2 linked regions of the Homo sapiens genome follow. The gene in region 1 interacts genetically with each later gene. Each region holds a gene or a part of one and is shown on either strand. Other genes may lie near its edges. The genes, in order: ARIH1 and DICER1.

Evidence for each region.
Region 2: changes in ARIH1 (region 1) and DICER1 together harm fitness more than expected from each alone (negative genetic interaction), as found in Homo sapiens cells (one large-scale study listed by BioGRID).

The regions. Positions count from the first base shown.
Region 1 is NC_000015.10:72,480,737-72,484,555, forward strand, and holds part of ARIH1 (E3 ubiquitin-protein ligase ARIH1), read left to right. Parts: intron 1-3,819. UniProt on the Homo sapiens protein: E3 ubiquitin-protein ligase, which catalyzes ubiquitination of target proteins together with ubiquitin-conjugating enzyme E2 UBE2L3.
Region 2 is NC_000014.9:95,147,358-95,151,176, reverse strand, and holds part of DICER1 (endoribonuclease Dicer), read left to right. Parts: intron 1-3,819. UniProt on the Homo sapiens protein: Double-stranded RNA (dsRNA) endoribonuclease playing a central role in short dsRNA-mediated post-transcriptional gene silencing.

The sequences.
Region 1 (3,819 bases):
TATTTTTAGTAGAGATGGGGGTTTCTCCATGTTGGTCAGGCTGGTCTCAAACTCCCGACCTCAGGTGATCTGCCCGCCTCGGCCTCCCAAAGTTCTGGGATCACAGTGAGCCACCTTGCCCGGCCTTGTTTTGTTTTTAATCTGGGACTGAAAATGAGGGAGTTGAAATACTAGGTTGGTCCTTTTTTACATTAAGTGTTTTATTCGTTTAACATCATTTTAAAAACCTCAGTTAATTGGAGATGTTCATTTTTTCCAAGAAATTGAATTCAGGTGTGCATATTGTGGTTATGTTCATTAATTGGGAGAGGAGGAAGAGGGTGTACAAGCCTGTGCATGATGTGTGCAGGCACATGTGTTTTGAAGTTATTAAAGTGTTTGATATAGTTTAGATTTATTTCTTTTGGACTTTTATATTTTCCCAGCTGATCTCCTTGAGCTGTAAGTTTAAATTACACTGACTTGTTGAATTGCTATGGCAGTAGTCCTATGAATCAAACTCTGGGGATGGGGTCTGGCTGTCTGTTTTAACAAGCCTTCTAGGTGATGGTGATGCAAGCTAAAGTTTGAGAACTGCTGATGTAGTTGAAATTTAATAGCAGTGTTTCTCTATGTGTTACGTGTAGTGATAGATTACTACAGAGGTGGGTTAATGAGGGAAGATAAATTGTTTAAGAAACTAATAATAGGGGACCAGTCACGGTGGCTCACACCTGTAATCCCAGCACTTTGGGGACTGTGCCAGGCAGATCACTTGAGGTCAGGAGTTTGAGACCAGCCTGGCCAATATGGTGAAACACTAGCTGGGCGTGGTGGCCTGTGCCTGTAATCCCAGCTACTTGGGAGACTTGAGGCAGGAGAATTGCTTGAACCTGGGAATTGGAGGTTGCAGTGAGCTGAGATAGTGTCACTGCACTCTAGCCTGGGTGACAGAGGGAGACTCTACTTCAAAAAAAAGGTAATAATGGGAAAATTTCCAGAACCTAGGCAACGTTTACTAGGCTAATCATAGGGTTGGAAGATGTTTGTCATCGTAGATGCTATCCTTCATGCTATGCTATCCTTCAGCTAAGGTGGTCTTTACTCAGTATTTTCTTTTCTTTTCTTTTCTTTTTTGGAGACAGAGTCTTTTCTCTCTTGCCCAGGCTGGGGTGCAGTGGCGCCATCTCGGCTCACTGCAACCTTCGCCTGCTGGGTTCAAGCGATTCTCCTCCTTCAGCCTCCCGAGTAGCTGGGATTACAGGCGCCCACCACTACGCCCGGCTAATTTTGTATTTTTGGTAGAGACGGGGTTTCACCATGTTGGCCAGGCTGATCTCGAACTCCTGACCTCAGGTGATCCACCCGACTTGGCCTCCCAAAGTGCTGGGATTACAGGCATGAGCCACTGCACCCGGCCAGTATTTTCAAATAGACAAACTAAACTAGTGACATCTGACATTCTAGATTGGAGTTCTTGATTTCCCTTCCAGTCCTAGATTTTTTTAATATAGAATGTTGAGTTTTCTAATTTATTAGTATGCTGGAAGAGATATAAAGTCCTGGATAGATATAAAGTCCTGTTTAAAGGAATATGAGAAGACTTATTCTTAAGGAGTTGAGAATCTCTTAGAGTTAAAGCTGTTAGGTTAGTGAGTAATTTAAATAAGTGGATAGTAATAGATACTCATGGAAGAGACCTCTGTAGGTGTTGTCAAAGATGGCTAGGATTTGGGTGGATAAAAAAGAGGAAGTCATTCTAAGGAACTGAATGAGGTGAGAATGAGGAGAGTTTTTGGGTAATGGTGAAATCAGCTAAAGTAGAATGGAGCTTATAAATGCTGGATAATAATGTAGAACCTGGGAGATTAAATACTGTGATGAAAGGTAAGCAGAAGTCATCACATTAGATTCTTTTGGGGTTGACCTGTGGTAACTATGTAGATTGGTTATCTTTTGCCTTATGTTACCCCAAAACTTAGTGGCTTAAAAAAACAAGGATCTGTTATATCATAGTTTCTGTGAGTCACAATTCTGGATGCAGCTTACCTGGGGGCCTCTGGCTTATGGTCTCTTACAAGGCTGCAACCAAGGTGACGGCTTGGTAGCAGTTCTCTCTCTCTCTTTTTTTTTTTTTTTTTTAAAGACAGAGGCTTGCTGTGGTGCCCAGGCTGGAGTGCAATGGCATAATCTCGGCTCATTGCAACCCTCACCTCTTGAGTCCAAGTGATCCTCTTACCTCAGCCTCCTGAGTAGTTGGGACTATAGATGTGCACCACCACACCCCAGCTTATTTTTTTGTTTTTGTGGGTTTTTTGGTAGAGACCAGTATTTTTTTGTTTTGCCATGTTGCCTAGGCTGCTCTTGAACACCTTAATTCAAGGGATCTGCCCGCCTTAGCCTCCTAAAGTGCTGGGATTACAGGCATGAGCCACCGTGTCTGGCCTGGGTAGCAGTCCTCAAGGCTTGACTGGGGAAGCTTCCCCTTCCGAGCTCACTCATTTGGCTGTGACCAGGCCAGATTTTCACTGGCTGGTTGTTGCCCAGAGATATCAGTTCCTTGCCATGTGGGCCTCTCCATAAAGTGGCTGACAACACAGTAGCTTGTTTCCTCCAGAGTGAGGGATCTTAGAGAAAAGGCCCATACGATGGAAGCCACAAAGTTTTTATAACTTAATTTCAGAAGTAACGTCGCATCACTTTGCAATATTCTATTTGTTGTAAGTGAATAACCAAATCCAGCCCATACTCAATCGGAGGGGATTATACAAAGATGTGAAGACCAGGAGGCAGGGGTCTTTGGGGGCTATCTTAGAGGCCGGCTGTTTGTCTCTGTCTCTCTCTGTTAAGAGGTAAATTACAGCTATTGTATAATGCCTTTCTATCCAATCTTTTTGTATGCTATTGGGAGAACATAGTGTTTTGGATTTTTTATTTTGGATTAACCGTAAATTAATTACTTTTGGCTTTGCAAAACATTATACCTGTAAATGATAAACATTCCTAATAACCTTTCAGTGGCTTAAGTTTAAAATAGCTTGTAGTCTCAGAATTGGTAGGAATTTGAGATTCTCCAGTTTACTGATTTTTTTTTTTTTTAACTCTAGCTACGTAATGGAATCACCTGGGGATTTTTTTCATTACTGTTTTTAAAATAGAAAATTGTAGATTCACAGCCGGGCATGGTGGCTCACGCCTGTAATCCCAGCACTTTGGGAGGCCGAGGCAGGCGGATCACCTGAAGTCAGGAGTTCGAGACCAGCCTGGCCAAATGGCGAAACCCCGTCTCTACTAAAAAAATACAAAAATTAGCCGGGCATGGTGGTGGGCGCCTGTAATCCCAGCTACTCGGGAGGCTGAGGCAGGAGAATCACTTGAACCCAGGAGACAGAGGTTGCAGTGAGCCAAGATTATGCCATTGCACTCCAGCCTGGGCAACAAGAGTGAAACTCCATCAAAAAAAAAAAAAAAAAAGAAGAAAAGAAAAGAAAATTGTAGATTCACATGCAGTTACAAGAAATAATGCAAAAATCCCACATATTCTTTTTTCCAAAAAATTTTATTTCCCTAGGTTATTGGGGAAGAGGTGGTATTTGGTTACATAAGTAAATTCTTTAGTGGTGATTTGTGAGATTTTGGTGCACCCATCATCTGAGCAATATACACTGAACCCAGTTTGTAGTGTTTTATCTCTCACCCCCTTCTCACCTTTTTCCCCCGAGTCCCCAGAGTTCATTATATCAATCTTAGGCTTTTGCATGCTGATAGCTTAGCTCCCACTTATGAGTGAGAACATATAATGTTTGGTTTTCTGTTCTTGATTTACTTCTCTTAGAATAA
Region 2 (3,819 bases), on another chromosome or scaffold:
TCCCTAAATAACACATTCTTCATCTGCTATGCATGAATTAACACATCATCCTTGAAATCATACTTCAATTCAGTGTATAAAGCCAAGTGTTTTGTAAAATAAACCTCAAGTTAGGTTTTATGTTTCCTTATGATTAGATTCAGGTTTCAGCTGGGCACAGTGGCTCACTCCTGTAATCTCAGCACTTTAGGAGGCCAAGGCAGGAGGATCTCTAGAACCTAAGAGTTTGAGGTAGCAGTGAGCTATAATTGTGCCACTGCACTCCAGTCTGGGCAACAGAGCGAGACTCTGTTCCCCTCTTTCCCCCGGCAAAAATAGATTCAAGTTTTGTACTTTCAGTAGGAAAACTACATTAGGTATGTGTTGTCAGTTTGTCCTAATACTGGTGATCTTAGCTTTGTCACTTGGATTAAAGGGGTATCTATCTGGTTTTTCCACTGAATAAAAATACTAGTTTTCATTTGTAATTAGTAGGTAATCTGCAGAAAAGCTTTCAGGCTATGTAAATATTCTTTAGTAACCTTCACCCAATGGTTTTAGCATCCATTAATGATCCTTGCTTCAATCACTAATGTGATGGTTAAAAATGGTGACTTTTCTGTCATTCCTTCTACATTTATTAGTTGACATTCAGTAGAGTTTCGCCTGAATTTTAAACCTAACAAAATACGATTTCTTTTTTGTTGTTGTTAATGCTGAGTCTTGCTCTGTCTCTCAGGCTGGGGTGCAGTGGCGTGATCTTAGCTTACTGCAACCTCTGGCTCCTGGGTTCAAGCGATTCTCCTGTGTCAGCCTCCTGAGTAGCTGGGACTACAGGTGCAAGCCACTATATTGAGCTAATTTTTGTATTTTTTAAGTGGAGACGGGGTTTCACCATGTTAGCCAAGCTGGTCTCGAACTCCTGACCTCAAGTGATTCACCTGTCTCTGCCTCCCAAAGTGCTGGGATTGCAGGCATGAGCCACCGTGCCCGGCCTACAAAATACAGTTTGTAAAATGAGAAACTAAGTTGAGAAATAAGACTGTCTTGAGTTGGGTTTTCCCAGTTGCACCTGTAACTTTAAGAACTTTAAAATTGTTTCTGAAACATCTTCAAGGTTGGAGTCAGATTAGTTTGCATTAATATGGAAGAGAATTTTGTAGTGGTTGGAAGTTAACTGAGAAAACTAGGATGGGTATAGTCAGATGATACCAAAATTATCATTGCACTAACTGATACCTCTCTAGCTTTGACAGTTTCTAGTTAGCCTCGAATTATTCTTTTGGACTTGGGTGCCAAGATCGAGGATGTTAAGCTTGTTGAAATAATTTGGGTTGTTTAAAGTCTTTTAATTTAAAAGTGTCTAATTTGAGTTTTATATTTGACCTATAAAAAGCTGCTTTAATTCAATAGTTAAGATCAATAAAGCTTATTCTCAACATCGAATTAATTAATAAAAAATTATTCATGGATATTTACTTTCCTACATTCCAAACTACCTAGTCATTACAAATTTACAGTAACGTGAAAATCAAACAAATCATGAACTATGTAATATGAATGTGAGTATAGTATGAGATTATCTTTCAAAGATCTTAATACTCTTGAGGGAGATGGCAATAACAGCTAATATATGGGGCAGTAATATAATGAAGCCCGTGATGATTTGGGTGTTGTAGCTAGCCCATGTGTGCTAAATGAGAGGGGAGGGGACTAAAGTGATAGAGGTTTTTAGGGAAAGTTGTGGGGTGGGGTTCGTGAGAGGTGGCGAACTCTGTTGGTACACACTTGTTTTGGTGTTACGGGAAAGGCAGATAACATGAGATGTTGCGCAGAAGCTATGATGATGTAGTGCGTCACACTCTTGCCTGGACCTTTTAATATATTTGCTTTCCTGTCTCAATAAACATCCATCTTAACTCAGTAGTCTCTTATGTTCATTTTGTCTCTGGATTGACCTCCCTTTAGTATTTAAGTATTCATGTTATATATCTTAAAACAGCTTGACAAAGAGAAAATTGTGGCTCCTTTTTCCCAATGGATGCTCTTTCTTGGTGTAAAGGTAGAGGGTAGTCGTGAATTGAATAAAATTCTAGCACTCGTTGCACAGTGTTAAGAGTAAAGTATGTGCCTGTAGTCTCAGCTGCTCAGGAGGCTGAGATGGCAGGATCACTTGAGCCCAGGAGTTCAAGGCTGTAATGTGCTCTGATGGTGCCTGTAAATAGACAGAGTGAGACCCTGTCTCCAAATAAAAAATAAAAAAAAAGAGTAAAGTACAGAAACTTGGAATCAAATATGAACCTTAAAACTCACCTTGAAAGCTAGTGATGTGTTAAGTATTTATGTCTCTTGAAACAAAACTGTAGGACAAATGTCATTATAGGTAACTTGAAGGGGAGGGGTGGGTATCTGTGCTGTTTTGATGTGTTGAAATGTCATCTTTCTGAGAAGTACTCCAAGAAGTAAGCGGACCTTTGGCTTGCAGCCTGGAGACACTTCTTATATGGAGATCTTTGATGGGTGGAATTTGTTAAGATGGTATTTGACCTGTGTTCCACTTCAATTTTGGACCAATCTAATTTTAGGCATGATTATATTGAAATCTAAACATAACATATTTATGTTAGAGATTTAGAGAAACCCAGAAATTTATTTGGTTCAGATACAGTAATGCATGAAAAGAAGGCTAATGAATTTGTGGTTTAAATTGTAGGTACTATGATACTGTAAAATATATATTTGGTCTGTCCTCTACCCTATTCTTAGGCATACAAGGCTTGAAATCCTTAGAATCTCCAAAGTGATGTGTTTTTGTATGCTAATGATCGACTGGTGGCCGGTAGCTCCTGGTAGCTTCAAAATGGGGGCTGGTTACTGGGAAGACTAAGGCATGATTAGAGGTTTGGACTCAGACCCACCCTCCAACCTCTGGGGAGGGAAGAGGGGCTGAAGGTTAATCATGCCCAGGTAATGAGTCTTCATAAAAACCCTGAAGGACAGAGTTTGGAAAGCTTCTGGATAGTTGAACACATGGAGGTTCCTGGAGGGCAGTTTGCTCTGGGAGGGCTTGGAAGCTCTATACCCCTTCTCCATACCTAACCCTGTGCATGTCTTCATCTGGATCTTTGTAATATCCTTTACCTAATTAATTTACTTATTTTTATTGAGATGGACTCTCGCTGTGTTGACCAGGCCGGTCTCGAACTGCTGGCCTCAAGCGATCCTCCCATCTTGGCCTTCCAAAGTGCTAGGATTACAGGCGTGTGCCACTGCACCCAGCCTGTAATATCCTTTATAATAAACTGGTAAACATAAGTAAGTTTTTCCCCAAGGACTGTGAGCTGGTCTAGCAAGTTAAATCCCAGGAGGGCGTTGTGGGAACCCCAGTTAACTGATTGGTCGGGAGCACGGGCAAAAAATAACCTGAGGTTTGCAATTGACACGGAAGGGTGGGGGAGGTCTTGAGGACTGGAGCCCTCAACCTGTGGGATCTGATGCTATCTCCAGGTAGATAATGTTGGAATTCAGTCATTAATAGAAGACACCCAGCTGGTGTCCGCTGCAGAATTGATGGCTTGCTTGTTGTTGGGGAGAAACCCCACACATTTGGTCACAGAAATTTTATGTGGTGTGTGAGAACAAAGGAAAAACAGTTTGTGTGTGTTTTTTCCCACTCAGATATTCAGGTAAATGTTACCACATTTTGTGCCTTAACGGGGGAGGTTTTTACTCATTAATTCATTCATTCTAGAGACAGGGTCTTACTCTGGAGTGCAGTGGTGTGATCATGGCTCACTGCAGCCCCCCAGGCTCAGGTGATTCTTCCGCCTCAGCCTCCTG